Linked DNA regions of Homo sapiens: region 2 is linked to region 1. Evidence: fine-mapped expression QTL. A gene starts in region 1. The other region holds a variant in brackets. All regions are shown on one strand. Distances are from middle to middle. Region 1 holds the start of C8orf48 (chromosome 8 open reading frame 48). Region 2 holds the start of DLC1 (DLC1 Rho GTPase activating protein).

The links.
Region 2: its variant is fine-mapped to the expression of C8orf48 in left ventricle (GTEx, PIP above 0.99).

What each region holds. Positions count from the first base shown.
Region 1 is chr8:13,564,471-13,569,858 of GRCh38, forward strand. C8orf48 (chromosome 8 open reading frame 48) reads left to right here and starts at 2,399. Exons shown (of 1, transcript NM_001007090.3): 1 at 2,399-3,818. The coding sequence starts at 2,522. The coding sequence ends at 3,481. It also overlaps a transcript of DLC1 not described here.
Region 2 is chr8:13,512,347-13,517,734 of GRCh38, forward strand. It overlaps DLC1 (DLC1 Rho GTPase activating protein), which reads right to left and starts at 2,505. Exons shown (of 18, transcript NM_182643.3): 1 at 2,256-2,505. The variant G/A (reference allele first, on the strand shown) is at 2,265.

The DNA of each region.
Region 1 (5,388 bases):
ATTTTTGAAGGCTCTGTCATCGTAGTCTCTCTTATACTTAAACTAGACTCCCACTTTGTACACTGCACACCACCAGGAAGAGGTACCTGCCAAATGCCAACTCATCATGGAAACGTTTATGATATCTGGGGGGAGAATTGCTTGCCAGAGTGACAGATGCTGAAAGTTTGCTTTTCTCCCTCCATAGGAAAGGAAAGCAAGAGAGAAGGGGAATCATGAATTTGTTTTGACTTCCTCTTTCTGGGGTTGGCCTTATAGCTGCAAAGCATTCTTGATCATTAAGGAAAAAGCTGGGAGAAGACCCTTGGCCCTGCTCTCTGATAGGAACTAGGAAGAAGAGAAAGTAGCTGCAGAACAGTAACAGGAGGGGCATAGCAAGGTTAGGCCAAGAGAGCCTGACTGGACTCTCTTTTCTATTCTTCATATCTCCCAATCCCCACCACAAGCAGCCTTCAGCCACAGCTTGGTCCACAAAGCATTTTGACATTCCCAACAGCCCCTGAGAGATGGCAAGAAGATTGAGATTTCCAAAGGAAAACTATTACTCTTCATATTTGTTTAAAATCAAACTTTGACCTGTGTTTTCATGAATCTTATTTGATAAATATAGTACTGTTGAGAAATTTTCTTCCTTAGATAACACACTTACTAGAATGTAAAACTGTCCACTGGGTCACGCTGAATATTACAAGGAAATTAATTATAGAATTTCCCACCCACATATATCTCCTTCTAGGATAAAGTTATTTTTAAAAATCAAGAGAAATTTAAGACACGATTATAAAAAAGACAGATTACCCCAGACATTTGGCATGTTAGAAGACACAGATAGATTTTATTTTAAGTATAGCTCCCTTGTTCAATGTTATGGATAAGATATAGCTAAAACATGAATAGTGTGTAAATATGAATGTGTAAATATTCAGAGAATGAGGCAGAGATTTGAAATAATAAATAAGGAAAATATTGAGCCCTATTGGAAATTACTTGGAGTTACTCACAAATTACATGCCACCTCTTTTTTAAAGACTACCATTATATGATAAAATAAAATTTGGGTTGAATAAATGAAGTTGGAGTCTCCTTATCTTCAACAGGAAGCTGGCTCATATACTTGAGAGATGCTTTTTGAATATTTGACTTTCACTTTTTGCCAGAATGAACATTTGGGGAATATATCTGGCTAGACCTGAATAATACCCCCCAATCCCCAAGAAACACAGGAAGAAAGAGAGAGAGAGACAAAACTGAGAAAGAAGGGTGTCTAGGCTCTTAAAATTATCCTAGACATTGACTAAGTCCTAGACTCAAGAACTATTATAACCTAGGAAAAGTCCATCTCTAGAGTTAACATTTTATAATTTCTCACGATAATTAATAAAACTCTACTGTGTTTTTTAAATGAATCCATTAATAAAAAATATATCCTGTGTAATAGCCTAAGTTTGGGGATTCAGTTAGAAAAAAGGTTAGAGTTCCCTGAACTTATAGTACTTATTTCTCCAAATCCTCTGGACGTGTGTAAGGTAAGATTTATTTGTTCCATAGCCATTCACTCAACAGAGATTTCTTGAACACCTGCTATGTGTCTGCTGATTGCTGGGCTCATACTAGTCGGCAACACCGACATGATTTCTGCCTTCAGCCTTCATAATCAGATACTCATACAATCACATAGTTGGACACTATTTAAAAAAAAATGCTGGAAAGAGTTTAAGGCAGGGGTGGGTATTAAGCCCTTCCTGAGGAAATGGGACTCGGAGGAGGAGGATAAATTAACGATATTAAGAGTGAGGACGGGCGTGGATATGCTAGCCAGAGGGGACCTGTATGGACAAAAGGCCAGAGAAACTGATTTGGAAAATTAAGGTCCTCCCCCGCCCCTGCTCCCCACCCCCGACCCCGCCCAAACTTCGAGGTCCTCAGAATGCTGGAGCACAGAACACTACTTCTTACAGAATGGTTTCTGTATTTTGACTTTTCCCCAAAGACATGCTCTACAAGGAGGTGTCTCTTGGCTATAAACACTGCAGACAAGTTTTTGCTTGTGCATCTTGTCCAGCGCGTTTTGCTTGATTTTTAAATCTAGATGCATTTAGGCGGGCGTACACGTTCGGATTTGTCACAGGCCACCTAACTCTATTGGTCTCACACACGTGTGCCACCTGTCTGACCCCTGGGAAACAGAGTTTGCAAGGTTTTCCCGTTGACTACTCGACTTTAGCACCAAAGAGAAGCAGGAGTGCAGAAGACAGGGCAAAATCGCCAACCCGGCGCAAGCAGCGCAAGCGCAGTGGGCGCTGGGGAGCGCGGAGGAAAAGGCGGGACGCCGCATGGTGGCCAGTCACTGCGCATGAGCGGCCCGCGTTGCCAAGACAGCTGGGAAGGCGTCTCCCGGAAGACGACCTCCGCAGAGCTGATGGCATTGAGATCCATTCCCGGAGGGGTCAGCTCCTGACGGGTTCCTGAGCCAGTCTTAACCTGGGCAAAGGAGATGAGGAGCCGAGCCTGATGCATTGTGATGGCCATCTGCCCAGAATTGGCCCAAACGGACAAAAGTGCTCTTGCAAACCTTTCTGATGAGACTGAGACTTTGAAGAACTCTACTGATGAGGTACAGACTTCCAGCTCATTCAGCTCCTCTGGAGGACGGCAGTCCTCGCCCCTGACCTCTGGGAGCAAACTGGAGAGGGAAAAGCAGACTCCAAGCTTGGAACAAGGAGACACACAATCTGAGCTTTTGGACTATAAAAATTATGAAAAGAAGTTGAGTAAAAAATGGATCAACTACCTCAAGCTCAAAGACTCTAACTTTGAACGGCACCAACCAGACACCAAACTTCCAACAGAAATCACTCGGGTATCAGATGAAGAATTGAATGCCCTGCAGTCTTATTGCACCATGAAGATAAATTTGATTCATCGTAGAGGGGATTCTAAGAAGAAGACGAGCAGCAGACATAAAAAGCTGCATCTTGGATTGGATGTAGAGGCTTCAGAGAGAGATGCCTTTAGTTGTACTGTACCCGATGAACTTTTGAACAGAATCTACTTTAAAAACATGAGGACAACGCCAAAACAGGAGGCAGCAGCTAAGCAACACATATCTTATCAGTGTCCCTATTGTAACAGGAAAAGAGCGGAGCTGGCCCTGTCTGCCTTTCTGAAACAAAAGAAGACTTTACTGGAGTCATTTCTACTCCAAGAGAGAATAGATGAACATCTTCATACCAAAGACTTTCTCACCCGTATTGGAGAAGCACATCAAGACTTTCCCAGGCTTTCAGATGACCCCAGAATAATCTGGAAAAGACTGACTGAGAAAAGTCATATCAGATACTCTGGTTTTGAAAGATCAGAGACAGAGCAGAAGTTGCAGCGAGATGGAAATAGTGCTTGTCATTTACCATTTTCTCTGCCATTTCTCAAGCGACTTACTCTAATCAAACCAGAGCTGGTGATTGTTAATGATAATGTGTAATGTGGATAGATGTCTTTGTTGTGTATTTGAGTAATTACCATAATTTCTACAGGCACTTGGGAAACTAACTTAAGACTTTACTATGCTTCCTTCACAGATTTGAGGACTAAGAACTTTCACTTTTTTTTTCCTATTATAGAAGGCACTGTTGTAGTTGGAATAGTTATAAAAACTTTTACAAAATTCCAAGAGAACTATGTTGGTAGTTTGGGCCAGGATGTTGATGGTACAGAAGCAAAGTAGTATGGGGATGTAAGAGAAACTTAAAAAGTAATAACTGTCTTTGGCGATCAAATGGCTATGGGGAATTAATAAATAGTAGATGTTTGAAATGTTATTAAGGCTCTGACTTGTGCGCCCGGATGAATGATCATTAATTTCATTAAGACAGGAACACCAGAAGAGGACTATGTTTGATGGAACTGTTGAAGAGTATGATTATTTGGACATATAAGGTGCATTTGGGACATACACATTGACAGTTTGAAGAAACATTTGATTATTTGTTTTTGCGCTTCAGAGGAAAGGTATAGCCTAGAGGTGCAAAATAAATTGGGGTAGGACTGGGGGAAGGGTGGGGATCAATGGCATATAGCTGGAAGTTGAAGCCGTAGATTGTCAAGCGTTTTTGGAAATGAATAAGAAGAGAAGCAGGGTTGATACAAACTCTTGAGAAATGCCAATTAATGGCTAAGTAGAGAAAAATAAACCTGCAGAAAAGATTGTGAAAAAAGTTATCAAGTGGATCAAGGAAATCAGGAATGTATAGTGTCATAGATGCTAAGGAATGAATATTTAAAGAAGGATAGTTGTCTAACCACATCAATCAACAGAGAAGCCATGTAAAGATGATTTAGTCATGTATTGGGCACTGCTGACCTTAGCAAAAGCCATTTCACTTATACAAATGGGGCAGACAAAATAGATTGAGGAAAAATGTAAGTAAATAATGAATGGATATAGGGTACTCCTTGAAATATTTAGCTGTAAGGGGAAGAAGAAGTAAAGCTGGGGTTAGGTGTTGAGTTTTGAGAGAAGAACGCTTAAACAAATTATCTAGATAGCCATTTTGGTCGTGAAGATTTTATGAACCTTCTGTTGTTCATCCAAATTTATGTAATGAGGAAACAGTATTATTCCACAAGGAATACCATGGCATTTTGAAAACACATTTATGGAGAAAAATGTTAGATGGCATTCTGAGAAGCCATTTATTATCTATTTCCTCTATAAAAATATAAAACCATGGAATTAGTGGCATTACCTGGAGATCACTTTTCTACATGTCCAACACCTGAATTATCTCAGTGAAAAAGAAATTTGTTTGCAAAAATCAGCACAGAAGAGTTTTAGTATTGTACTTCAGTATTACTCTTTGCGTTAAGACCTTCATTTATGTATAAAGATACTATTTTTTTCCCCCATAAAATTTAGCATATTTCCCCTTAGTAAGTCATTCTAAATGGAAAATAACCATTACCATTTTCATAATAACCTTTTATTTGAAATCCATATTATGTCATGCTTTATCTTTGACATCTCAATATATTCATGTTTTACATAATCAAAATTCTGAATAATTTTCCCTTTAGAATTCCCCCATTAAAGGGCATGCTCCACCCTTTTAGTCAACCAAGCTAGAAATCTGAGTCATCTTTTGTTCTTCCTTTTTATTTTTCAACTCAACCCCAAGCTATTTTTCAGCAAGACTTTCAGCATACAGTTCCCAAATGTCAGCATACAGTTCTCAGAATTACTATTTTTTAAATTTGTTACTTATTTATTATTGAGACAGGGTCTGGCTCTATCACCCAGGCTGGAATGCAGTGGTGCAATTACTGCTTACTGCAGCCTCAACCTCTAGGATTCAGGTGATCCTCTCACCTCAGCCTCCCCAGCAGCTGGGA
Region 2 (5,388 bases), 52 kb before region 1:
GCACACACAGCAACAAATATTGTCATATATGAAGTATGATGCAGATGAAATAGCCCACGCTCCCATTTTATACCACGTTGTTCAGACATTTATTTATATACTGTAAAAATTCTGCATTCTACAATTAAATGACTTTGTAGAAGGCTTAGAGCAGACATACAAATCAATTAAGGGATTGCAAACATGCTGGAGAAATGTAAACATATTTTTTATATGTCAACTTAGGCTTTTTATATATTTAGTGAAAAGACCCACATAGAACTTGAAATAAGCTACAGCAACAATGATTTAGGCTAGATAGAAGAAAGGATGCCTGGGGGTGGTGCTGTAAAATTGCCTCTGAAAGTCATTGGTTGGGACAGTTTCATTATGATCATTTGAGTACAAGGATATAAATTAGAAAAGCTGTTTTCTAGCCCTATTTTTAAAGAAACATCAGATTAAAATTAATATAATTATTAGCATATGGATTGATTTTCTTGACATAAACATCAAATATAATAAAATAGTCATAAAGCAAGTTACTACTGTAAAGTGTTTATTGAAGGCATACTGATTTGATTTTTTTTTAAAGTTAGGATTTTTTTCCCCACATAATTAACATTGGTGACAGTTTTACCTTTTTTTTTTTTTTTTTTTAAATTAGAGGAACTGCAAATTTCTGTCTGCAAAGCACCCTTCTACTGGACATGTTCATACTTCATTATGCATAATTATTATGGGAGGGCAGGATGATGGGATAAAAAGGTATCTGAATTATGAATCAGGGCACTGTGGTTCTGCTGTCCTCTCTTCTATTAGCTAGAGGTGTGACCTTGGACAGGTCACTTTTAAATCCCATTTCTCAGCTTCTTGTAGACAACCTCAAGCCATTGTTAGAGGAGACCATCTCTTATGTTCTTTCCTTCTCTGAAATTCCATTTGGAGATTTTAATTAAATCATAATTTAGATAAGTCAGTATTTTATCTTCCACATATATAAAAAGTAGATTCTTTTTCTCATATTTAAGAAGTTTTAACACAAATTGTCAGTGAATAGTTAAAATTTATCAATATAAGTTATTCTAGCATAAAATTTGAGAATAGCTAATATAGCAGATGGTCACCTTGTACTATATAAAAACTTATAATGAAAACAGTTACTTCATTTCTTATGATCCAACTGTCAAAATAGCTCTCCATCTTTCACTTAGTATATTTTGTATTCATCTAATAGATTTGAAAATGTACATGAATATTTCTTCCCTTTATGTACCATTTTATTTCTATAAAATGATGAATTTTATTATAAATATTCAGAAATATAACAGTATCTTATGCATTATAAGTCCACACTTTTTCGGTCATTACTAAACTTCTTTTCTAATATATTGTACATTTAAACATTTAAGATTACCTTGAAGAGACTACAGTCAGGTGGAAATGTAATTTTACGATTACATAAGTAAGGACACAAACAGTTTCCATATGACTGGAGTGATTTCTGGCTGCCTTAAAAGAGTTATAATGAGTGTCAGTGTCATTGAGATTGACTTCAGTTATTCAAAATATTACACAAAATGTGACCGGAGCAAGCAGTGAATCCAGGAAAATTAATATAAACTAAATTCGATTCCGACATTTAAATTTCCAAAACTCAGATTAAATACTATTTAGGACAGAAATAATTCCTGAAATTTCACGTGTTTACTTTTTTTTTTTAAATGAACCTTTTAAGCTGTACAGGAGAAGCTTGACATATGATTGAAACTGGCTTGGGTAAAATAATAAGAAATTCAATCTTCGTAGTTTTAAATGAGACACAAAATACTCTTTGGAGACTGATTATTAAGCACAAGTCACTCGGGTGCTTTCTACTCTCCCTGTTGGCAAAGGAAGGTAGGGGAGGAATTCATTTACACCTCACACTGATGTGTGAGAAAATGTATTTGTTTCACGTTATGCCAAGAAATAGGAAAACTGATCCGACAGCTCAATTAATAAATAAGTTAAACGTAAAAAGGGATAAAAATAAAATCTTACTTTATGGAGGAAAAGAGTTAAATCTATATGGAGCCTGTTTTAGAACTGACAGTTTGCTAAAACGAATTGACTCAGAATTTTCTACTTATCAAACATTTTCCACTTCTGATTTTATGGCTTTGCTCTAAAACCTAGGAAGTCACCAACTCCGTGCAAGATGCTAACATTTATCTCAATCTTTCTGCCTCTTCAAAGACCGCCTCAAAGCATAAAGATAGTCCATAGCGTCTTACCTAGACAAC[G/A]AGGAGCTGAAACGCCAAGGCATGACACTGCTCAACACTCAGGCTAGGAAAGAAGTCCGTCCCCGTTAGTTTCTCCAAAATCTAAGTTCCCATTTCGTGGTTGAGATCATGGCTCTATTCTGAGCAGTTTCACGCAGTGTGTGAGTCTAACAAAAACACCCTCTGCAGCTGGAGGGAGCCTTAGCTAAGGCAGGATCCTGTCAAGGCATTCCTAGTGACTTCTGTCTACTAAATTCAGACTGAGGTTTTGCAAAAGGGGCCTCCACAACCAGGCCCAGATTGCCTGGAAAGTATTTCCTGCCTCTGAGGAGTGTGCATGCTAGAAAGGCTGTACGAAGAGAGGGGAGGAGGGGAGAGCCCAGCCGCCTGGGCGTTTTAGGAGTTCTGATTTTACACAGAACTCAAGTGAGTTTTGTCAAAGCTCTTGAGGTGATTAGCTGTAGAGTCATAAAGTCCTAGAGCTTTTTCTATCCCACACTGCTTATGAAAAAAGAAAGAAAGAAAGAAAGAAAACGTAGTTTTCTCTCTATCCACAACCTTTCCACTATATTAAATGTATATGCACAGCTTAATCAAAATGCCTGTGCTTGCTCTCATTTCAAAAGATCTTTTAAGAGAGCAAGATGAATTTAGCCTTAATACCATAATTCTTCTAAATGGCAAAACCTTTTTTGAACATGACTTAAAATTGGAAATGCTGCAGCTTTTCATTCTGTCCCTGAGACCATCTGTAAGTAAAATCCCAAGCATCCAGTTAATAGAACGATTTCTTCCAGATCTCTCTGATCACAAGAATCCTTCACAGAATTAAAATAGTTCGTGTTATGGCAAATGCAGCAGCGCATTACCTCTAGTCAGAATCCTCCAGTTACAAAAATCCAGTGCTGGAGCAGAAGACAGGCTCCATCTTGATCGTATTAGAGTCTTGCTGACATTAAACACTTACAACTGCTTCCATCTAGCATGGCAGCGTTCCTGAATCACATCTCTAAAGCCGCTCATGGTATCTGCATCCTTCGTCCGTCACAAATTTTGTGAACTATCATCTGTTTATCTTTTCTGCTTTCTTGTGCCTCCCTTGAATGACTTCCTCCTAGCTGCTCCAGGTTGGGAATTTGGACTACCATTTGGTTTTGATTAAAACCAGACAGGCAACTCTGGAGAATTTAGGGAATAAGCTAATGGAAACTGCAAGTATGGCTTTAATTAGTGCATCAATTAATAATAGATGTTAGCTCGTCTTATAATAAGATATCACAAATACAAACACAGAGGAAGCTGAAGTCGTTTCAGGAAAAAAGTTACACCAATTTTCCTTCCTTTATGACCCAGAATCCTCTTTAGAGAATGTGGAAGGAAAGAAGAGGGAGGTGGTTTTGGGACATCCAGGCTGTGGAGAGGCCAGTAGAGCAGCTTCATTGTTTATACCAGGGAAGCAGGAAACAGCATCTCTGACTTTAATTATCTTGCTTGGTGGAAATGGCTCAGTCATGTCTCCCTTCTACTTTATTTACAATCAATGGATTTCGCTGCTATTTATGACTCAAGCATTTTTTTGGGGGGGGACTGATGATCAGATTAATTATTAGGTCTATCTGCTTCTTGCAAATTTCTAGAAGCTTTCAATAATAGGAAGTGCAAGAATAATTCCAGTTGGATGTGATAAAATGAGTAACATATAAAGAGGTAAAAGACATCTTAAACTTGTTGGCCCTAAGATCTATCCTGTTCTTCTCTGAAATTGTAAGTAGTTTTCATTGTTCACTGTTATTCTCCATCCCTGTATATCACAAGGGCTATCTTGTAGTACTTTTTGATAATATTGGGTAGGTGATAACTCAAAGATGCACAAGGTTCTAACTACTATTTTTTTCCTTATTAGGTAGCTAAAATCTCTCAAAGTTAATGCAAATCATGAACCATATTAGACCCATGTTAGATGGCAAGAATGACTTATACTGTGCATGAGTTTGAAGATGAGAAGTAGTCAAATAAAAACGTTTGGTCAGAAGCAGCTTTAAAAGTTTAGATCAAAGTCTTATTGACTAAAAACATGAGCATTTAGGTTTCTTTAATTTAATCTTCAACCATAGGCCAAGAAAGAAGTCTGTTCTTCCATAAATTCTTTAAAAAGTATTTATATTTATATTCAAAGTGTTTCTACTGACAGTATGCCTATTTAATCTTTCCAACAATTTTGCGTGTATTCATATGTTTTATTTTACAAATAAAGTATTGAGAAGCAATTTTCTCACAGTCAAATGATACAAAGTGCCCAGGTCCACACTGGAACTCAGATATTCTAGCTCCAAGCTTTGTGCTTTAATTTTTTCTCCATAAACTGCCTTCCTTGACTTCCACTTAATTTCTTTATTAAATTGGGAAGACTTCTTAAACTCTAATAGTTTCTCTTTAAAAATAGAGACAATTTCACATAACTTATAGATTGGAAAGCAGGATGAAATTTATATGCAGAAATATTTGTGTATTTATGTTTATTTCCCTAAGAAAAACACTGGAGAAGAAAGGAATGAGAACTGATATTATGTCTTTCCTAATATAACTTGATATCTCTATCTCTGTCACTGCCTTTAGTACTGATATACAGTGGTTACTCAATATTATATCAGCATCATGCTAATTCTTAGCTACATTTTATTCATGAATACTGTACCCCGCGCCATATACTTTAGTTTTGTTTCTATTTCTATTGGCTTGGGAAAACAAGAAAACTCTGTTCACAAATGCCTTTTAGATATCTAGAAACTCTTGTTAGTAAGTTTCTCATAAACATACCCTTTTCTACACAAAAAATACATTATGTTTTCTTCTATTAATAGGATTACTTCCCAAATCTTTAATTACTTATATTTATTTTTCATTGTTGAGTTGCTTGATTCCAAACAAATCTCAGATCTTATAGTCTTATAAAGGCTTTACCAAATATGAGTGTAAAGATAAATAGTGAGAAAACTTCCTAAGTACTTAGTATTGTGTCAGGAACACTGAAGGAGTTCAAAATATTTGTCCCCTTCTTTCTACTTGCAAATCTAAATACCAACTTCCTTAAATGTTTGACTGTTACTCTGTACTGGATCAGCTAATCAAATAAGGGGACAGGGAC